3 linked regions of the Homo sapiens genome follow. The protein of the gene in region 2 interacts with the protein of the main gene of each other region in a biochemical or structural test. Each region holds a gene or a part of one and is shown on either strand. Other genes may lie near its edges.

Region 1 (3,657 bases), on a different chromosome or scaffold from region 2:
ACCGAGATTGCGCCACTGCACTCCAGCCTGGGTGACAGAGCAAGACTCCGTCTCAAAAAAAAAAAAAAAAAAAAAAAAGAAAAAACCTACAATGAGAGAGCATCTCACCTAAGTTTAAATGGCTTTTATCCAAAAGATAAGGATGAATCCTGGTGAGGGATGTGGAGAAAAGGGAACCCTAGGTACATTGTTGGTGGGAATGTAAATTAGTACAACCACTATGGAGGACAGTTTGGAGGTTCCTCAAAAAACTAAAAATAGAACTATCATTTGATCTAGCAATTCCATTGCTATGTATATATGCCAACAGAATCTGTATGTCCAAGAGATATCTGAACTCCCATGTTTATTGCAGCACTATTCAGAATAGCCAAGATTTGGAGGCAATCTATGCGTCTGTCAACAAATGAATGAATAAAGAAAATGTGGTGCATATACACAAAGAGTACCATTCAAAAATAAAAGAGGCCAGGTGCGGTGGCTCACACCTGTAATCCCAGCACTTTGGGAGGCCAAGGCAGGCAGATCACTTGAGGTCAGGAGATAGAGACCATCCTGGTCAACATGGAAACCCCGTCTCTACTAAAAATACAAAAAATTAGCTGGGTGTGGTGGCATGTGTCTGTAATCCCAGCTACTCGGGAGGCTGAGGCAGGAGAACTGCTTGAACCTGGGAGGCGGGGGTTGCAGTGAGCCGAGATCGCGCCATTGCACTCCAGCCTGGCGACAGAGGGAGACTCCGTCTCAAAAAAGGAAGGAGCTAAGAACAGTTGATTTTAAAATTCTTAACATTTTCCCACATAATAAAAAATAGAGTAATTTCATAAAGCCCTCTACTCCATCACCCAGATTCAACAGTGACCAATATTTTGCCACACTTACTTCATTCATCCAACCTCTCCTTTTTGTTGCCTAAAATATTTTAAAACCCCAGACTTCATGTCATTTCACTCCAACGTACTTAAGTAAGCATCTCTAAAATACAGACATTCTTACATAACCATGCCATTTTGACACCTAACAAAATTAACAATAATGCCACAGTAGCATCTAATATCTAGTTCCTATTCAAATTTTCCTGATTCACATTTCCCAACTGTCTCATAGAGTAGCCAAAATGATTTTGAAGAAGAAAAACAAGGTGTATGGAAGTTGACAGATTTTAAGACTTCTTAAAGTCACTGTAATATTTCAACAGCAATGGGAAAAAAAACAAACAAACCCACCACTGGAACAGAATAGTGTGCCCAGAAATTGGACCCAAGTTCCAATACTGGAACTTGGTATTGCAAGGGTATGGGGAATTTGGCATTACAACTCATTGGGAAAAGGACAGACTATTAATAGTACTGGGACAACTGAAGAAAAAATACTCAATCTTAGCCAGGCACAGTGTCTCATGCCTGTAATCCAAGCACTTTGGGAGACTGAGGCAGGAGGATGGCTTGAGGCCAGGAGTTCAAGACCAGCCTGGCCAATATAGAAAGACCCTGTCTCTATTGAAAAAAAAAAAAAATACTGGATCCTCATATCATACAACAAAGGAAAAACTTGTTGATGGAATAAAGATCTAAGTATTAAAATCAATATTTTAAAAATTTTACAAGTACAGAATTCTTTGTAATCCAGAAACAGGAAAGCACATAAAAAGGAAGCCTTTAAAGATTTCAAAAAAATTAACAAATTCAATCATATTAAAATTTAACTTTCAGTACCTCAAAGATACCATAAATAAACTAAAAGCCTTGCCAAAGACTGGGAAATGATATATGCAATGTGTATTTCTGACAAAGGATCAATATCCAGAATATAAAAGAATTCTGGCTGGTTGCTGTGGTTCACACCTGTAATCCCAGCTCTTTGGGAGGCCGATGCTGGAGGATTGCTTAAGGCCAGGAGTTTGATACCAGACTGGACAACAAAGTGAAACCTTGTCTCTATTAAAAAAAACAAAAAGTATGAATAAGTCCAATAAATCAATAGGACAAAAAAAGTACGTAATCCAACAGAAAACAGGAGAAAATCTAAGAAGCCAGTAAGTGTAAGAAAAGATGATGAACTTTACCAGTAATCAGAGAAATGTTAATTGAAACAATAAGTACATACCATTTTCAATCTACGTAATTGACAAACGTTTTAAAGTCTGACAATGCAAATGATGTTGAGAATGTGGTGGGACAGTAAACTGGTCCAATCATTCTGGAGAGCAATTTGACCATATCTGGTAAAGCTGATGGTTGTGATACTCTGAAGCATCAATTCATAATTTGTTTCAATTATAGATACATTCTCTAGAGAAACTCAAACCTGCATACAAGATGACTCACAGATGACTATCCAGAGAAGGAATGTATTAAAGGAAAACATTAAAAAGCAGCCTAAATGTTTATCAACGAGAGTTTGGATAGAAAATTTCAGTGTAGTCATATAATGGAATCTAATAATCAACGAGCATGAATCAACTGGATCTACATGTATCATACGATATAGAGGATTTCGGAAATAATGTTGACTCAGAATAACAAGTTGCAGGCTGGGTGTGGTGGCTCAAGCCTGTAATCTCAGCACTTTGGGAGGCCGAGGTGGGCAGATCAGTTGAGGTCAGCAGTTGAGAGGCTGCGGCAGGAGAACTGCTTGAGCCTGGGGAGGTGGAGGTTGCAGTGAGCCGAGATCACGCCACTGCACTCCAGCCTGTGCGACAGAGTGGGACCTTGTCTCAAAAAAAAAAATAAAATAAAAAAAAAAGAATAACAAGTTGCAGAAGAATATGCCAAATATACATATATAGCTTAAAGTATGCAATACTGGCTGAGTACAGGGGCTCACACCTGTAATCTCAGCACTTTGGGAGGCTAAGGTGGAAGGTTCACTTGAGCCCAGGAGTTGAAGACCAGTCTAGTCAACAGAGTGAGACCCTGTCTCTACAAGAAGAACAACAAATTTAGTGGGGCACGGTGGCATGCACCTGTACTCCTAGCTGGTTGGGAGGCTGAAGCAGATGGAATGCTTGAGACCAGGAGGTCAAGGCTTCAGTGAGCTATGATTGTACCACTACACTCCAGCCAGGGAAACACACAGCAAGTTGCTGTCTCAAAAAAAAAAAAAAAGGAAAAAAAAAGTATGCAATACTATATATTGTTTTGAGATACACAGATTTAAGACACACACTGAAAAATGAGATATAACCCAAAAGGCCATCAATAGGTGATTGGTTAAATAAATTGGGAAACAAATTCCACATAATCTTTTTAAAAGGATGAGATACATCAGTATTTCTAAAGTCCAAGACTCAACAGGTGAATGAGTACAGAGTAACTTATTTATTGATTCCTTCCCTTTTTATAAAATTAAACACATCCTAGCAAATGAACGGGAGTAGAAATTATGAGTGTTGGAATAAGGTCTACAACACCAAATCCTCAATGTTCATAGTAGAAAGTATAGACAACGTCTAAAACTGGGGGAGAAAAAACACCTCAAGAAATAGGCCAGGCATAGTGACTCACACGTGTAATCCCAGCAATTAGGGAGGCCTAGGCAAGGACAATCACTTGAGGCCAGGAGACTAGCAGGGGCACCATGCCTGGCTAATTTTTGTATTTTAGTAGAGACAGGGGTTTCGCCATGTTGACCAGGCTGGTCTTGAACTCCTGACCT
Region 2 (3,657 bases):
AAAACTGAGAATTCATCCATTCCTCTGTACCCAGATACTAGATGATTTCACATAACCCACTTTAAAACTAACTTTAAAGAAACCATGAAAATGGAGACAAATCTGATAATGCACACAAAATTTCTGAAACCTACAAACCATTTCCAGGCAGACGTGCTTCAAAGTCCTTTATCTAAAAGATTAGATCGGAGATACCTAAAAACCCATGACAAAGGTAAATCACAGACGAACAAAACCAAGCAAGTAACAAGGCCCAGTGGTTTTCTGTTAGGTGAAAAGTGGGAAAAACAAAGCAAAACGTTTGAAGTGCAACTTACCCACGTTTAATGGGCTGACAAAGTGACAGCCCCCCAAATTTTAGGCACAAATATCTTTTTTAAAGTATCATCCTTTAAATAGTGCAGGCGTCAACAGGGAAGAATAAAAGTATTCTAAATAATTATTAGAATTGTTAATAATAAAACTATTCTAAAAGAATTACCAATTCATCAAGATTCTTGGTACCAGGATGAAAACGAAATGTCCTTATTTCCAGGACCGGACCCTTAGGTGACGACGTTCGTGCACTGACTGAAGCACATTTAGAATTTCAGAGGCTTCTACTCCCTCATCACAGAACAATAAATTCGGGGACTAATCTTAGGTTGCAGCCTATTCTAACTGTATTACTATTTCTCAGAGATTCTCATTCCAAAATCTACAAAGCAATAAAGACAGCAATACCGTTGCTGTTGGAATGATCTTCATTTTATTCAGCAATGTTTTTCTGCTTCTCTGTGGCACTCTCACACCCTGCGCTGGTGAATGCAGATGCCCTTCCTGTGGACACGCTAAAGGCACAGGTACAGTCTGTCAGACGTCATCAACCCTCGCACACGGCCTCCGCCTGTTAGTTCTCACCAGTCACTGCAGGCTCCCAGATCATTTTAGGTACCTTCCCCTTTCTGTGGCGATTTAAATACCTCCCTGTGAGTGACTGGGAAAAAGCCAAAGCAAAGAAATCTGCAGGAAAAAAAAGACTTAGTTTCTGAAAGATGGTGACCTGTCAGAATATTTTCTATTAAAATAATTGTACTCCACATAAATATTATAAAAGCAGACAAACACTATTGTTCTAGCTACTCCCCCCACACTAGGAATCTCCAGGGCTGAAACCTGGTCTACAGAGAGCAGCACGCAGAGAACCAAGGACAGAGGCTCTCTCAAGGGCCTGAGCACACCACGAGGCATCTGCACCGTCCTCCTCACCAGGACCTCACACCCCGTAAGGAGCACCGCAGAGAAACTGGGAGTAGAGACCACGAGGTCCCTGCACCGTCCTCCTCACCAGGACCTCACACCCCGTAAGGAGCACCGCAGAGAAACCGGGAGTAGAGACCACGAGGTCCCTGCACCGTCCTCCTCACCAGGACCTCACACCCTGTAAGGGGCAGGGCAGGTCCAAACTTCTTGGAACCTCAGTTTCTTTCCAATGGAGTGAGGAGGTTCTTACTTCTGCCAGATAGGATGAAGCCCGACAAAAACATACAATCTTATTAAAGATCAAAACGACAATCTAGTGACTATTGTAACTTCACCCAAATGCAGTGTTTTTAAGTTCCCAGAATGGTTCTTTGTCTAAAAATAACCACTGATGTGGTTAGGATAAATGTTGCTGGTAACAACAATGCAGGCAACGAGGGCACGGACCCACCTTGCCTGGTGACAACAACGCAGGCAACGAGGGCACGGACCCACCTTGCCTGGTGACAACAATGAAGGTAACAAGAGCAGGGACCCACCTTGCCTGGTGACAACAATGCAGGCAACGAGGGCACGGACCCACCCTGCCTGGCTGGTGCTGGTGCTTTTCACAGGTTCACTCACACCTGCTATTTATAGAGGGAGGTTTCACAGGGCCACAGGTTCCATTACCTCTCTCCGCAGTGCTCCGCCTCAGTAACCGACACTAAGCTACACAAGGCTCACTCACACATACCCACGTGGGATTCTTCTTTCTTTGTTAAAATTCCATGCTATAAAGAACTGTTTAGACTGACGTTCTAATCTACGCTCTGGAGCAGCGCGTAGTCTGCTCCTCGGCACTGTGAGCATGCTGGCTGCACATGTACAAGCAACATCCACACCTCTCAGTTTCTCAAACACAGTCTCAGCTAAACAAGTTACTGTCAAGCAGCCGGCGGCCAGTGGGGTCAAGAGCCACCTTCACTAAGGTGATGGCACACAAGCGACGCTTGAGCTTAGCACACTCAGGCTGCTGCCGCTGTCTGCTCTCTGCAAGCTCCAGTTCAGCAGATTTAATGCTATGTTTTCAAAGATACTTCCCGTTATTCCTGAAAAATAAGTATTTTTATAAGCCCTGTGAAAGGATCAAGATAAAGGAACAACAGTGGGTAGGCACCCCCCGGTCCCAAAACCGTCCTGGGCCAGAAGCTAATTCATAACACCTGCAGGGTGAACACAGCGACCAAGCCTCAAGAGACAGGCTGTCCTCCCCGTAAATCCCACACCTCGTCAGCAATGTCCTCAACAACACCCTCGGGAAATCTGATTTCCCAAGACTTTCTCCAAAGGCCCCTCACCAAGGAGCCACCAGGGCACGCAGGCAACCAGTAAGCCCTTGAGGGACCAAAACTGTGTGGCCACATCAAGGGCTTCGCCCAAGCCAGAATTCCAACGTCAGATCGCCTGCGCATTCCTCAGGCAGCCGCCCTGAAACCCCGTTTCTGACACCTGAGTTTCTGATCCATCAGCTGGGCAGGACCTGCTCTCTCTCACCAAGAGCCACGGGGTTCCATTGGTGCTGGGAGGTCCCTGTTAAAAGGGACCTCCTTTCAGCACAAGCCCAGGAGCAGATTCTGCACCTCCCCTGCCCTCACACGCAGATGAGCTGAAGCCAGGGTTGGAGCCTCCACAAAAGCAGTTGTGGATTCTGCCCATGCTTGTCTATACAAGTGCGTGTTATTTGCATAATCTGAAAGGGGTACTCTAAGGATCAATACACGATAATCAGTCTATAAACATTTAAAGCAAACTTCAACCAAATGCTTGCTCTCCCAGATAAAGATCTCAGGAATCTGTAACTTCAAGAGAACTTTTAGAGGTGGTCAAGATAAGTCAATTATAAAACAGCCCACGTGCAATTCTGGGAACTTGCTTAGTAAAAATCAAACACCTGGGCTGGTGAGCAGAGTCAATGACGGTTGAAGGCAGTTCCTCTTCCCTGATGTCTTCACCTTCCAGCCTCCAAGTGGTGGGACACCGCAGAAGAGAACCGCGGAGCTGTTGCTGGAAATGACCACACCAGCAATCAGAGAAAAAAAGAAAAACAGAGGAAAAACCTTTTAAGTGAAAGTGACTCAGGCTCTCTAGAGGAAGGCAGATGCTCTTCACCAACCGACGTCCCAGAGGCGTCGCAGGGATGAGAACTAAACTCACACCTATCACCTTCCAACATCAGGATGGAATTATGCCCAATATTCTCTACTTCATCACAAAGCGGCACAATCTATTATGGAAAGACTTCCATATTTAATCAGTCCCTCATTCTCACGGGGGACGGGCTGCAGGACTCCTTCAGATACCAAATTCCACATCCACAGATACTCAGGTCCCGCAGTCAACCTGGAGAACCCACTGATCCAGAAAGTCAGCGCT
Region 3 (2,637 bases), on a different chromosome or scaffold from region 2:
TCACTGAATGACTTAAGGCTCGACAAATGATATTCTTGGAAAGTTTAATCTTGAGGTTTTCAAATCTTTTTTTTTAATGTCTCCCATGTTTCTCATTTGCTGATTGATTCATTAGTTGCTCTTAGTAAGATTTGTCAGTTGGAAATAATGAAGGCTGAGACTCATTTCTAAACTCTTCCATAACCATCACCAGAAGAGCAGCCACTGTGTTGTGTGATGTAGGCTAATGCCTCCCAGATAGAGGTAAAGTCACAAGGACTATTAGAATTCCAGTGGATTGTGGAACTGGTTTTGGATTATCCTTATATTTTCATTCTGATTACTGAGGCAGTTCTGAAAACTCCTACCATTGAAATAGTGGTGTGTCTTTTCCTTGTTTAAGGATTTTACATCATTTTTATGCACTTGAATTCCAAAATCAGAATCTCTCTTTTACCTATCAACCTTTATTGGCTATTGGCTTTTGGCAATGACCTTTCTGTTCAAATGTAGTCCTGTCTCTTTGTTTCCTTAGGGAGTAGAACCTGTCCTTTTTCTCATCTTTCATTTTTTTGACGTGTCCTTTCTAAGAGAAGGCTCTCTGCCGCCTGTTCTGGGTGATAAGTGATATTTTCATCTAATCGTTATGTGGTTGGGATGATCATGGTGAAATACTAGGAAGACATACTCTGTTGATGGACTTTTTCTCTCCAAATAATCCCAAATAGATTATTTTCTAGTGAATGGTTTATATCTTTCTCGTCACAAAAATGTTCCTTTGATTTCTAGCACAAGGTACAGCAGGATGCAAATGATTCTCAGATAAAATGATGTTGACAGTATTTCCTTAACAATTTATGTAAAACTATGCATAATTTTCATTCTAACTTTTGACATTTTTCTCCATAAATAAAAGTAATGCCTGATGTTTAGTTAAAGTAGATCCACCTTTGCTTGATTTTATTAGTCTTGTTCTATCCTATTTCTTTTTAATACACTGTTTAGACTTGCCAACAACTCTTAACTGAGAATCTCTTTTCCTTCCTAGGCTAAGTAATTGTGAGTGGGGGAGGAAGAACATTAAGAGAAATAATCTAAAGACTTTGTTCAATATTGTCGAAGCCTAAGAATATTTGTGTGTCCTTCTGATGTACTGAGGCTTTGCCGGTACCACACCATCTTTGGATTACCATAAGGTTATGTAGTAGGACTTAAAAGTACTAGGGCAAACATTTGATTTTTGAGAAAGATCAACAGAACAGTATAGAAATCCAGGTGCATTCATTAGAATACTAGGATCACAAGAGGACTACTCTGGTGTACTCTAGTGACCTGAAAAAACTCTAAAATGATAAGAAAGCTAGGGGACAAAGGGAAAAAAGGGCAAGATTTATAATTTATTTTACTTTCATGATTTTTCCAAGTGTCTTCAGAAGTAGAAACCTATAGCATTAAAAAAAAAAATCTACATTAACTATATATGAGCTGAGAGAATGAGAAGGTAAAAAACATGGAGGATAAGTTTCCTTTGTACTTACGAAATAGTCCCCTTTCTTAGGATAGAAGATAGCAACTGGGTAGCTTCTGAAGCACCATAAAAACAGCTAGAAAGAATGCTTATTTTTGAGGGGATAGTGGACAAATGAGCCCTTGTTGCTAGAGAGACACTGATAAATTATCTGAATCCTGTCAAAAAATACTGTAATACCTGTGTTAGGTTCTCTCAGGAAATAGATGAATGGCCGATCTGCTTTAAAAATAGGAATCCGAGACCTTTTCAATAACAACAGAGCTGCAGGAAAGAAAGAAAAATTCCATTGCATTTTCTGTGCATTTTTAAGAAAATAACTATTGGTTATGAAGTAAGTTAATTTTTTAAGAAATCAAAGCATCCTAATGGCATTTGATTGTTTACTGTTGTGATGGGGGTGCAGATGGGAAAATTAAAGAGAAAAGATGCCATTTAGCCAATCCTGTCTCCTGTTTTCAACACATTCCATGGAATAAATTCCTTATTGAAGGTAACTTTCAGAATTATTTTTATGGGATGGATATCTCTTCTTCCCCGTCATTTTTCAAAAACTTTTTGTTTTCTTTAGTGTTCCTTTTTAAAAAATACTACACCACACCTGAACTTGGGGGTTATGGAAAGATTCAGAAGTGTGAAGATTCAACTAGGTAAATTTCAGAAAGGTAGATATGGGTAAGCAGTGTGACTGGGTATTCTCTGAACATACCTGTGGCTCCAGATGCCTTGGTGCCTTCCTCCAAAACTTCAATCTTGGCCTTGTGGATTGCTTCAGAAACATAAAAGCCATCTTGGCCTAACCACAGAAAATGATAAAAATGTGAGTTGCTCATTAACATTTTTCTAACACATTTAGAACACATTCTTTAAAAATGTACTTACAAAATTTATAGTATCCAATGCTGCTTACTGTGTAGCTAGGGAAAGAGTGGAAAATTCTGTTTTTGTTTTTACTGGAGGCTCAGGTAGCTGTTTGGAAAATTCTTAAGACTCAATATGTTACCAAACTTTAATTTGTTATATATATTTAATTTGTTAAAATATGTAATCGCTCCCAAAATAATATTCAGAGCACTGCCCCATTTTTTCAGTGGTTCATTTTCAGAAATGATTCTAGTTAAAACTACAAT

The links.
Region 1: of the proteins of CTDP1 (region 2) and CDK7, one has a biochemical effect on the other in vitro, tested with the Homo sapiens proteins (one study listed by BioGRID).
Region 3: the proteins of CTDP1 (region 2) and INTS6 form a complex in vitro, tested with the Homo sapiens proteins (one study listed by BioGRID).

Annotation. Positions count from the first base shown.
Region 1 is NC_000005.10:69,237,736-69,241,392, reverse strand, and holds part of CDK7 (cyclin-dependent kinase 7), read right to left. Parts: intron 1-3,657. UniProt on the Homo sapiens protein: Serine/threonine kinase involved in cell cycle control and in RNA polymerase II-mediated RNA transcription. Cyclin-dependent kinases (CDKs) are activated by the binding to a cyclin and mediate the progression through the cell cycle.
Region 2 is NC_000018.10:79,682,668-79,686,324, reverse strand, and holds part of CTDP1 (RNA polymerase II subunit A C-terminal domain phosphatase), read right to left. Parts: intron 1-3,657. UniProt on the Homo sapiens protein: Processively dephosphorylates 'Ser-2' and 'Ser-5' of the heptad repeats YSPTSPS in the C-terminal domain of the largest RNA polymerase II subunit. This promotes the activity of RNA polymerase II.
Region 3 is NC_000013.11:51,360,944-51,363,580, reverse strand, and holds the end of INTS6 (integrator complex subunit 6), read left to right. Parts: 3' UTR 1-1,583; coding exon of another isoform or gene 1,584-1,771; 3' UTR 1,772-2,004; downstream 2,005-2,637. Other genes in the region: SERPINE3 (serpin E3 isoform 2 precursor), read right to left, coding at 1,584-1,771, 2,217-2,303. UniProt on the Homo sapiens protein: Component of the integrator complex, a multiprotein complex that terminates RNA polymerase II (Pol II) transcription in the promoter-proximal region of genes.